Linked DNA regions of Homo sapiens. The main gene of each other region encodes a partner of the protein of the gene in region 2 in a complex. Each region holds a gene or a part of one and is shown on either strand. Other genes may lie near its edges. A codon is read from its position in the direction of its gene.

Evidence for each region.
Region 1: the proteins of PIGT (region 2) and PIGU are in contact, whole or in part, in a cryo-EM structure (PDB 8IMX), measured with the Homo sapiens proteins. Residues at the interface, in NP_057021.2 of Homo sapiens: Tyr361 (codon at 2,300), Gly362 (codon at 2,303), Leu363 (codon at 2,306), Gln364 (codon at 2,309), Lys365 (codon at 2,312), Arg394 (codon at 2,399), Leu395 (codon at 2,402), Tyr396 (codon at 2,405), Val397 (codon at 2,408), His398 (codon at 2,411), Tyr416 (codon at 5,097), Pro418 (codon at 5,103), Ala419 (codon at 5,106), Gln420 (codon at 5,109), Asp421 (codon at 5,112), Arg422 (codon at 5,115), Gln445 (codon at 5,184), Glu447 (codon at 5,190), Leu450 (codon at 5,199), Leu451 (codon at 5,202), Lys452 (codon at 5,205), Trp453 (codon at 5,208), Thr454 (codon at 5,211), Pro518 (codon at 6,511), Thr519 (codon at 6,514), Pro520 (codon at 6,517), Asp521 (codon at 6,520), Phe522 (codon at 6,523), Ser523 (codon at 6,526), Met524 (codon at 6,529); in NP_536724.1 of Homo sapiens: Glu30, Lys42, Arg43, Val45, Glu46, Ser49, Leu50, Leu53, Val55, Ser59, Gly60, Ala61, Val62, Pro265, Asp266, Leu267, Pro269, Leu273, Trp275, Tyr276, Phe277, Phe278, Ala279, Glu280, Met281, Phe282, Glu283, Phe289, Phe293, Asn296.

Annotation. Positions count from the first base shown.
Region 1 is NC_000020.11:34,562,089-34,569,116, reverse strand, and holds part of PIGU (GPI-anchor transamidase component PIGU), read left to right. Parts: intron 1-7,028. UniProt on the Homo sapiens protein: Component of the glycosylphosphatidylinositol-anchor (GPI-anchor) transamidase (GPI-T) complex that catalyzes the formation of the linkage between a proprotein and a GPI-anchor and participates in GPI anchored protein biosynthesis.
Region 2 is NC_000020.11:45,419,131-45,426,158, forward strand, and holds part of PIGT (GPI-anchor transamidase component PIGT isoform 1 precursor), read left to right. Parts: intron 1-164; coding exon 165-265; intron 266-342; exon of another isoform or gene 343-373; coding exon 374-460; intron 461-1,005; coding exon 1,006-1,093; intron 1,094-1,201; coding exon 1,202-1,299; intron 1,300-1,397; coding exon 1,398-1,563; intron 1,564-2,252; coding exon 2,253-2,453; intron 2,454-5,085; coding exon 5,086-5,251; intron 5,252-5,365; coding exon 5,366-5,449; intron 5,450-6,379; exon of another isoform or gene 6,380-6,443; coding exon 6,444-6,696; 3' UTR 6,697-7,028. UniProt on the Homo sapiens protein: Component of the glycosylphosphatidylinositol-anchor (GPI-anchor) transamidase (GPI-T) complex that catalyzes the formation of the linkage between a proprotein and a GPI-anchor and participates in GPI anchored protein biosynthesis.

The DNA of each region.
Region 1 (7,028 bases), about 11 Mb from region 2:
TCCTCCCACCTCAGCCTCCCAAGTAGCTAGAACTACAGGCACACCCCCACACCTGGCTACTTTTTAAATTTTTGGTAGAGACAGGGTCTTGCTATGTTGTTACGAGCTCGAACTCCTGAGCTCAAGCCAAACTCCTGCCTCAGCCTCCCAAAGTGCTGGGATTACAGGTGTCAGCTGCCGCACCTGGCCAACCACCCACCCTTCCAAGCAGGATCTGGATCATCTGGAACCCTACTCCTCAAGCCACTGCCTATTTGCCATGAGGGGCCAGCCCTGACCCCTCCCTGTACTGCAGACCCTCAGATACTGGGCTGGCCTTGCATTGGCCATTCTCCTTTCTGTTTTGAGTGAGGCCTGAAGCCCGAGGTCTGACACCAACCTCCTGCATGCTGCCTGTCCCCTGCCTGGGACTCACTGTTCACTGCAACACAGGTGAAACCACAATCCTGTCTCCCGGAGTTGCCTCTCAGTTGGCCTGGTGTGTCATTCTGGGAAATGGGACCTATGAGGAAATGCTTGGAGACGTGTTGGGTGGGTCATTAGTGGCTGAGTGGTGTGTAGCCCCCATTTGGGGTTGGCTCGAGACCCATTTCAGGTTTCTTCCTGCCGGTTGTGTGTGGCCTGGGCTGTGCAAGATCCCAGGTCTGTGTGTGGGAAGGCTCGTTGCTCCCGATATGCGGTGCCTGTGGCCAACCTGGAGCCCTTGTCCTCATCCTGCTGGATGTGCGTGTTTACTTTGCTTTTCCCAACTAGTGTAATTCTGTCAAGGTCTTAGTTCATTCCTTTGTCCTTCCAGCACTGAGCATCCCAAGCTTGTCCCTCACAGGCCCTTCCCAGCCTATTCTCCTCCCCAACAACCAGAGTGACAGGAAGAGCCCAGGCTACATACAGCAGGACAAAGGCCACAGAAGGCCAGGGCTCTGGAAGCCCAAACTCTATAGCGACTCCAGCCCTGTCTGTCCTGGCTCGCTGGCCTCAGGCACATCCCGTAACTCCTGGGAAGCTAATTTATTTATTTGCAAATGTTAATTAGGTTCCTACTATTCACCAGGCACTCTGCGAGGGGTGAATGAGACAGAGGTGTACTTCCAAGGAGCCCTCGGTCTGTGGAGAGAAAGGAAAAGACATGGGCAGGACAGGGCAGCCTGACGAGCTGGGAGCCCAGAGCTGGGCTGTTAAGGAGGCTTCCTGGGGAAGGTGGCCTCTAAGTGGGGTCCTGAGGGATGGGTAGGATCTAACTGGGTTCTATGATTTTAGGTAGCAAGACCTGGGTGGGGGTGAAGGAGGGAGAGAGAGAGAGAGAGAGAGAGAGAGGAGGAAGGAGGGAGCAAAGGAGGAACACCGTGCTGCTGGGAGCTCAGTGGGACTGGCTGTACCACTTGAGAGGGAATGAGGGCAATTCAGACAGCAGTGGTCAGACCACAGGCCTTCAAGGGCCTCTTATGCAGAGGTCCAGACTGCACCTTTGGCTTTAAGAGCTGAGGATAAATGTGATCAGATCCATGCTCTGAAAACCTCACTGCTGGGAAGAGCAGAGGTAAGAGGTGTGAGCCTGGCATCCAGGGCACCAGGGACGAGGCTAGGGGAGGTTGAAATCTGGGGGAGGTGGTGGTGGCCTCAGTTTCCTCAAACTGGGAAGGTGGTTTTGAGGACTGAATGTGGGAAAAGTGCCATGTAAGTGAAAAGTGCCATGTAAGGGACAGTTACTTGTAGCCTCATCCTCAGTCTCACCTTGTGACCTCTCAGACCCTGACACTGAGGTCCAGAGATTTCACTTGTTACTTTGCATCTTCAGAGCTGGAGGGTGGAGTTTTCTCCTCCACCATTTCCTCCTACATAATGTCCGCTCCGGCCTGTGGGTTGCCAGGTTACGCCAAAGTGCTGTCCAGCTCCACAGTCGGCCGCCAGCCTCCTCTGCCTCCCAGCTTCCTGGATCCCAGGCAGGTGGGCAGAGGCTGCTGCACTTTGCCAACTGTGACGGCCACATGCATTCCCCCCAGCGTGGGCTGACTGTCAAATGTCAGTGTCTGTGTCCCCAACAGCAGCAGGAGGCCTGGGGAACCAGGACATGCCTGGGTGATAGCACCTGCTTCTCTAGGAATCTGCAGCCCTGGTGGTGGACAAGGCTGCTGTCCTGAGCCCAGTAGTTTCAAGACACACTGTATTAACAACCTCTACTGGCTTTTTACAAAAAAAGTCAATCTCTCTCTCTCTCCACTGAGTGACAGAGCTGTGAACTGGGGAGAGCAGACTCCGCAGGGTGTAAAGGTACCTGAGGTGTCAGCACAGGCCTGGCATGTAGCAGGACTCAGTTCATGTGGGTGCAGACCCTAGGGGGTTGTGGAAGAACTCAGGATTGGGCCTCTGACAGGCAGGACTGGCCCCTAACTCTTCACTTCCTACCATGTGACCTTTTGCAGGGCCCATAACCCCTGAGCTTCCCTTCTCTAAGTAGGCATTGTCAGCCCTACCCTGGGGGGTTGGAAAGGGACAATATTGTTTTTTTGTTAAAGGGCCTGGACCAGGGCAGACACTCAGAAGATATTCATTTCCCTGTCTCTCCATCCTGCCCTGCACTAGAGCATGTTCTGAGGGTTTCGTTCTACTTCTGATTCATCCTGTCTGTCCCTGGTCACCCCTTTATCAGCTAGCTGCCCCATGAGCTCTTCATCATGGTCCCAGAGGGAGGCGGCCCTGGAGCCCTCATGGCTGCCATAGAGAGGAATGTGGACCGAGCCGTCCCTGGGGGCAGCGCTGAGAGGGTACAGACCAGCAAACAACTCAGAGAGAGCTGGCCCTGTGCCGGGCCTGGGGCCATAGAACTGGAGCAAATGCAGCCCCATTTGGTTGGGAGGCCAGTGGGCAGTGACTTCACTTCAGGGTCCATGTAACAATGCAGGGTTAGAGAAGACTCCTGGCAGGAGATGAGCCTCTGAGGGATAGGTGGGAGCTGCAGCGCTGCTGGGCAGGGCAGGGGGAGCCAGGGAACTTCTGAGCAGGCAAGCGTGCGTGTATGTGTGTGTATCTGTGTGTGTGTGAGTGCAGTGCGAGCATGTGAGCAGTGAGAGCGTGCGTGTATGTGTGTGCATCTGTGTGTGTGAGCATGTGTGTCTAAGCATTGCAAGCTTGCATGTATGTGTGCACCTGTGTGCGTGTATGTGTACCTGTGAGTGCAATGTGAGCGTGTCTGAGCAGTGCGAGCATGTGTGTGTGCAAGCATGTGTGTCTAAGCATTGCAAGCATGCGTGTATGTGTGCACCTGTGTGTGTGCACCTGTGTGTGAGTGCAGTGCGAGCCTGTGTGAGCAGTGCAAGCGTGCATGTATGTGTGTGCACCTGTGTGTGCATGTGTGAGCAGTGTGAGTGTGCGTGTGTGTGCACCTGTGTGTGTGTGTGTGTGTGTGTGTGTCCAGAGAGGTGGCTGCAGGAAGAGAAGAGGGCAAGTCTGAGAAGGGGATTGGCAAGGCAGTATTTCAGCCACATTGGGTGGGATCCAGAGACCTGAGGACACAGAGTGACATGTTCTGGGGTCCTAACTGGCACAAAGACTAGAGGAGCCCGGCCGGGCGCGGTGGCTCATGCCTGTAATACCAGCACTGGGAGGCTGAGGTGGGCGGATCATGAGGTCTGGAGATCGAGACCATCCTGGCTATCATGGTGAAACCCCGTCTCTACTAAAAATACAAAAAAAGAAAAAACTAGCCAGGGGTGGTGGCGCACGCTTGTAGTCCCAGCTTTCTCGGGAGGCTGAGGCGGGAGAATCACTTGAACCGCGGAGGTTGCAGTGAGCTGAGATCACACCATTGCACTCCAGCCTGGGTGACAGAGCGAGACTTCGTCTCAAAAAAAAACTAGAGGAGCCCAGCATTGTTGGTAACAAGCTAGAGCCTATTACTGTCATTTTCCAGATGAGGAAAATGCAGCCCAGGGGACAGGAAGAGACTTAATATCACACAGCCGCTGACTCGCCCATGCAAATTCCACAGCCCCTTGCCCAACTCGCCCCTGTCCAGACTGGGCAAAGGGGCTCTGGGTCTGCAGCTGCTGTGTTGGCTGCACCCTAGGGCCTCTGGGAAATCCCTGCTCTCCTCACGGCCCAAATGGAAAGCCCCAAGGTCAGAAGAGGTTGTCCTGGCTACAGGCTTCCCTCTGAAAGGGCCAGGCCTCTCGGCCAGCCTGGTGTCCTCTCCCTGGGGGCAGGGTGCTCACTCAGGACTGATGACACCCAGGGCTGTGTGCCCAAGCCGCTCACAGGGCTCTTCCCGCCACCCCCTTTATCCTCCAGATTTCCACACACACAGCAGAGTTGACAGCTTTAGCATTGGACACCCATATACATACCCACCAGCGGGAGTCCACCATTCACATCTTCAGGTACTTCTTCCATCATCCCTCAGTCCATCTTACTTTTTTAGTGTATTTCAAATTGAAATGCAGACATCAGTACATTTCCTGCTAAATATTTCAGCATGTGTATCATTTTCTTATGTAAAATTTATTATACAGGGAAAAGTGCAAATCTTTTGTGTACATTTGCCAAAGCTCTCTTTCACTCAGCAAAATATTTTGAGTTTGTTACATACAACAATAGGTCATTGCTGTTAATTTTTTTCCTGTTTCAAGAGCTGGAGTTTTGCTCTGTTGCCCAGGTCGACCTCCTGGGCTTAAGGGATCCCCTTGCCTCGGCTTCCCGAGTAGCTGGAATTACAGGCACAAGCCACCATTCCCAGCTAGTTCATTTATTTTTTAAATAAACTTTTTATTTTAGAATCACTTTAGATTTATAGAAAAGTTGCAGAGATAGAACAGAGTTCCTGTAAGCCCCCACCTAGTTGCCTAAGTTGTTAACATCTTATATTTTACCGTGATGTGTTTGTCAAAACTAAGACACTCACCCTGATACGTTACTATTAGTCTGAAACACTAGAATGGATTTGGATTTCCTGTTGTTCCAGTCACAGCCTCTTTCTCTACCAGGACCCCATCGAGAGGTCCACATTACATGTAAGGTCACATCTCCCCAGTGTCTTCTGCTTTTCTTCTTAGTCTTTTCTGACTTCTCATGACCTTGACAGTTGAGGAGCGCTGGCCAGGTATCTTGTAGAATGTCACCCAATTTAGGTTTGTCCCCCAGTTTAGGTTTGTCTGATGCTTTTCTTAGGACTATCCTGGGGTTGTGGGTTTTTAGAAAGAATACCCCAGGCAAAGTGCCCTTCTCATCACATCTATTGGGGTTACATGCTAGCCACGTGATTTCAAGCTGATGTTAACCTCCACCACGTGGTTAAGATAGTGTTGGCCAGGTCTCTCCACTGTAAAGTTACTCTTTTCCCTTTCCCTGCTCCTCAGGAGGAAGTGAGTAACCAAGTCTAGACCCCCCTAGGCTTAGGAGATGCAGAGTGGACAAGAATTAAGCTCCTTCTATGGGAGGGGGATATAACTACCTACATTGTTTGGAATTCTTCTGGAAGGAAGATTTATCTCCCCCCCCCCATTGATGTATTGATTCATTGATTTATTGGCTGATTTGTTTTAATTGAAGCTTTATTTTTTATTATTACTTTTTGAGACGCAGTTTCGCTCTTGTTGCCTAGGCTGGAGTGCAATGGCGCATCTCCGCCTCCCAGGTTCAAACCATTCTCCTGCCTTCAGCCTCCCAAGTAGCTGGGATTACAGGCATGCGCCACCATGCCCGGCTAATTTTGTATTTTTAGTAGAGACGGGGTTTCTCCATGTTGGTCAGGCTGGTCTCGAACTCCCAACCTCAGGTGATCCGCCTGCTTCGGCCTCCCAAAGTGCTGGGATTACAGGCATGAGCCACCGCACCTCGCCGAAGTTTTATTTTTATCAATGGAATACATGTATGTAGTTTGCAAAGTTAAGGCTTATAGGGGAAAAGAATAGCTACCTAAAGTCTTACTGTTATTTCTGTTGGTACTTCTAAATAACATGCTTACTTTTCCATGTGTACGTTTTTCCGTTTTATATTAGGTTGGATCATATGAAATTGCCAGTATTCAACCATTTTTTTATCTGCAAAACTGGCAATTTCATATGGTCCAACCTAATAACCTAATCTTTTTCTTCCTGCTTCTTGTCCAGATGATTATTGTGTGACATGGAGTTGCTTCGTTTTGATTGTTGTGGATTGTGACTGCACCTGCCCCTCAGCTGACCTGGTTCAGGGATCAGCCTCTGAGCTCAGCCCCTGCTTTGGGCTCCTCCTGCCCAGATGGCATCTCGGGCCTGGGTGAGAAAGGGCTGCAGGGTATGAGGTCAGCCTTTGCTGTGATCACTGCCCCCCAGTGGGCCAGCCTGGAGCTGCCAGCTGGGCAGCTGGGGGCAGGGCCTCGGGGGCTGCCTGAGCTCTGTCTGCTTTGCTGACGCTGTGACCAATCTCGTGCTCATCAGTGATCTGGGCCCCAGGCAGACCACCTTTCTGGGTCCATGGCCATTAGTCCAGTGCTCCAGGTGTAGCCTTAGGCCAACCATTGAACCCTTTGAGTCTCAGTTTCCCCATCTGTTTAAGATGAGGATTGTTCAACCTTCCAGATGGGCTTCTGTGGTGATAGAATGGCAGGTACTTGTCCTGAGGCCATCAGAGCTGCTGGTGACAGGACACCTTCCTGAACTCCTCCAGGCGCCTCTGATCTCTCCTTAGCTGCTGTTGTGTTACCTTCAGGTCAGTGAGAAGCTGCCCAGGACAGGGTCTGGAGGTCTAGATCCCAGGCTTAGCTCAACCTGTCTTGCCCCAAGACCATAGCCAAGTGCTCTGTGCCTCAGTCTCCCCATCTGTGCCAGGTGGTTGGTGCCAATCCTCTGAGGCCTCCAGGTGCCTGAGAGCTGCGGTGTCTGTAGTGTGAGCCCCTGTCCCCTCATCCTTCTCTGAGGCTGGGCCCTGCCCAACCTGCTCCAGGGACCAGTGGTCTTGGGAAGCTTGGGCTGACTGGGATTGCAGACTCCGGGTCTGGTGTATAGGGCCCTTGGCAAATCCCTATTCCTTTCTGGGCCTCCTTGAAGAGACAGTGG
Region 2 (7,028 bases):
CCTTTTCCCAAGGAGAGAAGGGAGTCCTACTCCCAGTTGGGACTGTCCAGACTGTGGTGCTAGAGGTGGTGTGGGGAGCAGGAGGGTCATTCCCATCTCTGGAATGTGGATCCCGAGGGGTCAGAGCCCAAGGCCCACCCCAGACAGACCTCTGTCTCCCTCAGACACTGACCACTACTTTCTGCGCTATGCTGTGCTGCCGCGGGAGGTGGTCTGCACCGAAAACCTCACCCCCTGGAAGAAGCTCTTGCCCTGTAGTTCCAAGGTGAGGCCGCAGAGCCTGGCAGCCGGGGGCGGGGGGTGTATAGAGAACCTGCGCCCCATGCCAAGTGCTCCATACAGGGCTTCTCTTATCTCTTTCCATCTCCTCCAGGCAGGCCTCTCTGTGCTGCTGAAGGCAGATCGCTTGTTCCACACCAGCTACCACTCCCAGGCAGTGCATATCCGCCCTGTTTGCAGAGTAAGTCATGGGGAGTAGAGGAAGCTGCCATCCAGGGGCTCAGAGAAGGTACATGTAAAGCATGTGGTCAGTGTCTGGCTCAGGCTGAGTGAGTACTGAGTGGTAGATGTGATGACGGTTATTCAGGGCATTGGCCAAGCACCAAGAAAACAGTGGTTGCCTAGCAAGCACTGAATAAATATTTGTCATGGAAAATAGTGGTTCAGAACAATAGCTATGCGGGTGCAATTGCTAGCTCAGTCACTTGCCAGCTGGCGTAACCTTGGGTGAATCATTTCATTCCCCTGAGCTTGGTTTCCCACCCTGCCACATGACATTGATAGTAGAATCCACTCCTAGGGTTGTTGTGATAGTTTATCAAACTGATGCACATACAGCTGTCAGCACGGGGTCTGGCACGAGGTCAAGTGCTCAGGAGTGGGTGGTAGCAAATCGATGGATGTGAAGATACATAGATGAGGGATTGAGTCTGAGTAGGAGTCTTTTTGGGGGCTGTGTGGTGAGAGTGATACCCCCTCACTGCTGCCATCTGGCCCTTGTGATAGAATGCACGCTGTACTAGCATCTCCTGGGAGCTGAGGCAGACCCTGTCAGTTGTATTTGATGCCTTCATCACGGGGCAGGGAAAGAAAGGTAAGTTACCTTGGCAACTCATCTGTACCCACCCATGCCAGCCCTGCCTTATCTATGTGGACTAGGCCTAGGCCTGGCCCCTGCTCAGCCCTGCGCTCTGTTTCTCAGACTGGTCCCTCTTCCGGATGTTCTCCCGAACCCTCACGGAGCCCTGCCCCCTGGCTTCAGAGAGCCGAGTCTATGTGGACATCACCACCTACAACCAGGTAACAAGGTCTCCAGCCACACACACAAACACACCGCTGGTCCCCAGGACCAGCCTACCCTCTCTGCTTGCTTCTTAGCCCTGCCTTTGTGTCCCCAGGACAACGAGACATTAGAGGTGCACCCACCCCCGACCACTACATATCAGGACGTCATCCTAGGCACTCGGAAGACCTATGCCATCTATGACTTGCTTGACACCGCCATGATCAACAACTCTCGAAACCTCAACATCCAGCTCAAGTGGAAGAGACCCCCAGAGAATGGTGAGTGGGTGGTTGGTTGGACTGCTGGGTTGCAACGGCTACAGAGAAAAGACTCACAATCCCACGTCTTTGCCGTTAGATGATTGGGTTGTATTTAGACCAGATTTCCAGAGTCATATGCTGCTGACTGTAGCTATTCCAAGCTCTACGATTTTGGGTAGGTTCCTAAACTCCCCAAGCTTCAGCATCCACATCTGAAAAATAGAGTATACTTAGCAAATTGGATGAGATGATGTGAAAAATGGAGTTAGTTCATGCATTTGCTTAATCAACCAAATACTTTTGAATTCATACTAAGTGCCAGGCATAGAGTGTTGAATAAGACAGAGGACACTGCACTCAAGAAATATAAGTCTACTAGCTAGGGCAGGTGTCAGTTAATTAATTACAGTTGTGTTCAGTTCCCTTACCAAGGGAAAGAGCAGAATATCCTGAGAGGACCTGGATTGGGTTCGAAGGGGGCACGGTGTTCGTCACGTAAGCACTTCAATACTAGCAACCTATTGTCATCATCGCTTGTTGGCTGGGGAAGACAGGGATGATTCCAGAACCCAGATTGCCCAGTTTCAGTGGCAGGGCTGTTCCCCATCTACTCACTGGCTTGGGACTCTGAACATGGCCTGGGCAGGTGGGGTGGGGAGTGATTCTTACCTTTGGCAGCTGTTAACTGTTGATATTTCTTTACACAGAGGCCCCCCCAGTGCCCTTCCTGCATGCCCAGCGGTACGTGAGTGGCTATGGGCTGCAGAAGGGGGAGCTGAGCACACTGCTGTACAACACCCACCCATACCGGGCCTTCCCGGTGCTGCTGCTGGACACCGTACCCTGGTATCTGCGGCTGTATGTGCACACCCTCACCATCACCTCCAAGGGCAAGGAGAACAAACCAAGTGAGGACCTGAGTCCTGAACCAGGCCCCCAGCCCGCCCTCTCATGTCCTCTCCAGGTCCCCCAAACTCTCATTTCCCAGGGTAGTTCCTGAAGTACCTCTGAAAAGCTACACAGGCATAAAGAGTAAGGAATAGTTTCTCAAAACTGGAACGGGAGCCTCACTGTGCCAGGTTCAGAAGTAATTTATAAAACAGCAATAATTAAAACACATAATACTGGTGATTCTTAATAGGACTGTACAAGGACAGTAGCTTCCTTTTTCACTTACTTTTGCCTCCTTTCTGGAGCATTGGGTTTTGTGATGATTCATAGACTCTTTAAGGTAGGGAAAGGGTTTGGCAACGTTAGGCTTTTGAAGCTAGGAAGATAGCAGAGCTGGAGTAGATGGTGTTTTGCTTCCTTGGGAGGGGTAAAGAGGTACAGTTAATTAAATTTTTTTATTTCTATTTTTATTAAAATTTATTTTTATTTTCTATTATTTTTCTAAGGAGAAGATAATATTAGTGCTTCCTATTAGGTGCCAGGCATAGCACTAAAGCACTTGCCTTTCTTTGGTGTAGGGGGAGACTAGTAGTAAAGTAAAAGACCTCTGAGGAAGAGGTTGTACCATATCCCAAACGGCCAAACTTAAAAACCTTTCAGTACTTTAGTTGATTCCTATATTTTCAAACATACGGTGAATAGTTTCACTTATTTTCAGCACCATTATTTGTACCACCTTCAAAATCTCTATTTCAGACATCCTAACTGCATATTCTATAGGTTTTTCTGTTATTATTCTTTTAAATCTTCTCCTTTGGAAAATTTCAAACCCAAACCCAAACAGAATAGTGTAATAATCCCCTGTACACACCCTGCAGCCTTTTTTTTTTTTTTTTAAGAGACAGACTGTTGCTCTGTCAGCTATGCCGGAGTGCAGTGGCATGATCATGGCTCATTGCAGTCTCAGACTGCTCGGCTCAAGCAATCCTCCTACCTCCGCTTCCCTAGGACTACAGGCATGAACCGCCATGCCTTTAATTTTTTCACAGAGGCAGGGTCTTGTTATGTTGCACAGGCTGGTCTCAAACTCCTGGCCTCAAGCGATTCTCCTGCCTCAGTCTCCTAAAGTGCTGGGATTATAGGTGTAAGCCGCTGCCTGCTGGCATATCTTAAAGCAAATCTTAGACATTGCATCAATTAACCTTTAAATACTTTAAGGATTTTTAAAAATGTAACCGTATCATTACCACTTCTGTTTTCCCCTGTGGTCTTAAAAATGTCTTTTTATAATTGGTTTGTTTAAATTGGGATAAACAAGGTTCTCACATTGCATTTGCTTTATACTAAGTTCCTCTCTTGGGTGGGCACAGTGGTGCACACCTGTAATCTCAGCACTTTGGGAGGCCAACACAGAAGGACCACTTGAGTCCAGGAGTTCGAAACCAGCCTGGACAACATTGTGAGGCTCCCCCTACCTATACAAAAAAAATTTTTTTTTTTTTTTTTTTTTTTTTTTGAGACGGATCCTCACTCTGTCACCCAGGCTGGAGTGCAGTGGCGCGATCTTAGCTCACTGCAACCTCCACCTCCCGGGTTCAAGCGATTCTCCTGCCTCCACCTCCCGAGTAGCTGGGACTACAGGCGCGTGCCACCACGCCTGGCTAATTTTTTCTGTTTTTAGTAGAGATGCGGTTTCACTGTGTTAGCCAGGGTGGTCTCGATCTTCTGACCTTGTGATCTGCCCGCCTTGGCCTCCCAAAGTGCTGGGATTAAAATAAATTGTTTTTAATTAGCTGGGGGTGGTGTTGCACGCCTGTAGTCCCAGCTACTCAAGAGGCTGAGGTGGGAGGATCACTTGAACCCAGGAGGTCAAGGCTATAGTGAGCCATGATCATACTATTGCACTTCAGCATGGGCGACAGTGTGAGACCCTGTCACGAAAAAAAAAAAAGTTTCTTTTTCTTTAAAATTACTAGACTATTCTTAGAGCAGTTTTAGGTTTACAGAAAAACTGAGCACAAAGCACAGAGTTCCCATATACTCCCTGTCTCCACACCCAGAATGTCCCTTATTATAAATGTCTTGTCTTTGGTGTGGTACTCTTCAGTCTCTCTTCATCTGTAGCAGTGCCCATGCCTTTTTTTTTTTTTTTTAATGTCATTTATTTGTTGAAGAAACTGGGTCATTTGTTGTGTAGAATGTTCCACATTCTGGGTTTGTCCTTGTGCTAGTGTTTAACACACCCCTCCTCTCCTATATTTCTTGTGTGTTGGTGGTTAGATTTAGAAACCTGATTAGATTCATGTCCCACATTTTTGGCAAGAAAAATTCCCAGGTGGTTCTGTGAACTTCTTCTTGCGTCACATCAGGCACTTGGTGTCTGGTGCCCCAGTTGTAGTGATGTGAAGATTGATTAGCCATCTGCAGCACTCCTAACAACCTCTCTTGATCGCATCCTGGGATCACTGCCCTGGAAACATCCTCTCCCTTTTCTTAGCCCCTGCTTTCTTCCCTTGCCTGCCTGGCTTCTATGCTCCCAAGCCCATCTTCTAGGCACCCAGATTGAGGCTCCATGGCAAGCAGCAGGGACAGGGGCAGCAGGTAGCCTGACCCCAGGAAAGAGATGTGGGTGACCTTGCATGTCTCCAGGTTACATCCACTACCAGCCTGCCCAGGACCGGCTGCAACCCCACCTCCTGGAGATGCTGATTCAGCTGCCGGCCAACTCAGTCACCAAGGTTTCCATCCAGTTTGAGCGGGCGCTGCTGAAGTGGACCGAGTACACGCCAGATCCTAACCATGGCTTCTATGTCAGGTGGGCTCCACCCCCACAGGCCACCTCTCATCCCCCTGACCTACCCTTTCTGCTGCTTACCCCTTGATAGGGCAGCCAGATGGGAACACGGGCCATCTCTCTGCTTCTCTGTAGCCCATCTGTCCTCAGCGCCCTTGTGCCCAGCATGGTAGCAGCCAAGCCAGTGGACTGGGAAGAGAGTCCCCTCTTCAACAGCCTGTAAGTGTGACCACACTCACTGATAACACATCCTCAGCTGCCTGCTGGGCCTTAACACAGGTGACCAGGCTCCTGCAGGGGAGTTCAGGGTAGATGTTACATCTTCCAAAGAGATGTGTAGATTTAATTCAATCCTAATAAAAATCCTGGCAGTCTGTGGAATTTGTGAAGACTTTATAAAATGATTTTAAAGTGCTTCTAGAAGAATACTTTTACTTACAGCCTACATTTACTTCTTGATGCTCTTAAATATTTAATCAAGCACTTATCAAATGCCAAGTGCTTCTGAGAGCACTGAGTGTGCAAGATTAAACAAAACAGACTTGGCCCTGGCCTCCCTTTGCTTACAGTCTAGAAGGAAGATTCTGGTCTAGAGAGTAATGGGGTTAGAGGTTGGGTAGGAATTGATTTACTGGGTTATCTAGGAAGGCTTCATTTAGGAGGTGGCATTTAGGCTGAAACCAGGCTAAGAAAGAAGCAACCAAGCAAAGGCGGGGCCCCTTTCCTCCACCTCAACACCAGGCGTCTCTCTTTCTTTCCTTTCTCTCTCTTTCTTTCTTTCTCTTTCTTTCTTTCTTTCTTTCTTTCTTTCTTTCTTTCTTTCTTTCTTTCTTTCTTTCTTTCTTTCTCTTTCTTTCTTTCTTATTTATTTTTTATTTTACTTTAAGTTCTGGGATACATGTGCAGAACATACAGGTTTGTTACATAGGTATATATGTGCCACGGTGGTTTGCCGTACCCATCAACCCATCATCTAGGTTTTAAGCCCCGCATGCATTAGGTATTTGTCCTAATGCTCTCCCTCCCCTTGCCCCCCGCCCGCCGCTCCCCTTTATCAGGTTTAGAGATTGAGCTATGCCTTCTGTTGAAAGGTTTTGAGCCTAAGAGAACATTGGAAACACTGTGTTGCATTGCCCAATACTGCCGGAATGAGGATGGGGTGAGATGGGGAGGAGCAGCCAGTCCTGTCTCACCGCTCTTCCCCTGACCCCAGGTTCCCAGTCTCTGATGGCTCTAACTACTTTGTGCGGCTCTACACGGAGCCGCTGCTGGTGAACCTGCCGACACCGGACTTCAGCATGCCCTACAACGTGATCTGCCTCACGTGCACTGTGGTGGCCGTGTGCTATGGCTCCTTCTACAATCTCCTCACCCGAACCTTCCACATCGAGGAGCCCCGCACAGGTGGCCTGGCCAAGCGGCTGGCCAACCTTATCCGGCGCGCCCGAGGTGTCCCCCCACTCTGATTCTTGCCCTTTCCAGCAGCTGCAGCTGCCGTTTCTCTCTGGGGAGGGGAGCCCAAGGGCTGTTTCTGCCACTTGCTCTCCTCAGAGTTGGCTTTTGAACCAAAGTGCCCTGGACCAGGTCAGGGCCTACAGCTGTGTTGTCCAGTACAGGAGCCACGAGCCAAATGTGGCATTTGAATTTGAATTAACTTAGAAATTCATTTCCTCACCTGTAGTGGCCACCTCTATATTGAGGTGCTCAATAAGCAAAAGTGGTCGGTGGCTGCTGTATTGGACAGCACAGAAAAAGATTTCCATCACCACAGAAAGGTCGGCTGGCAGCACTGGCCAAG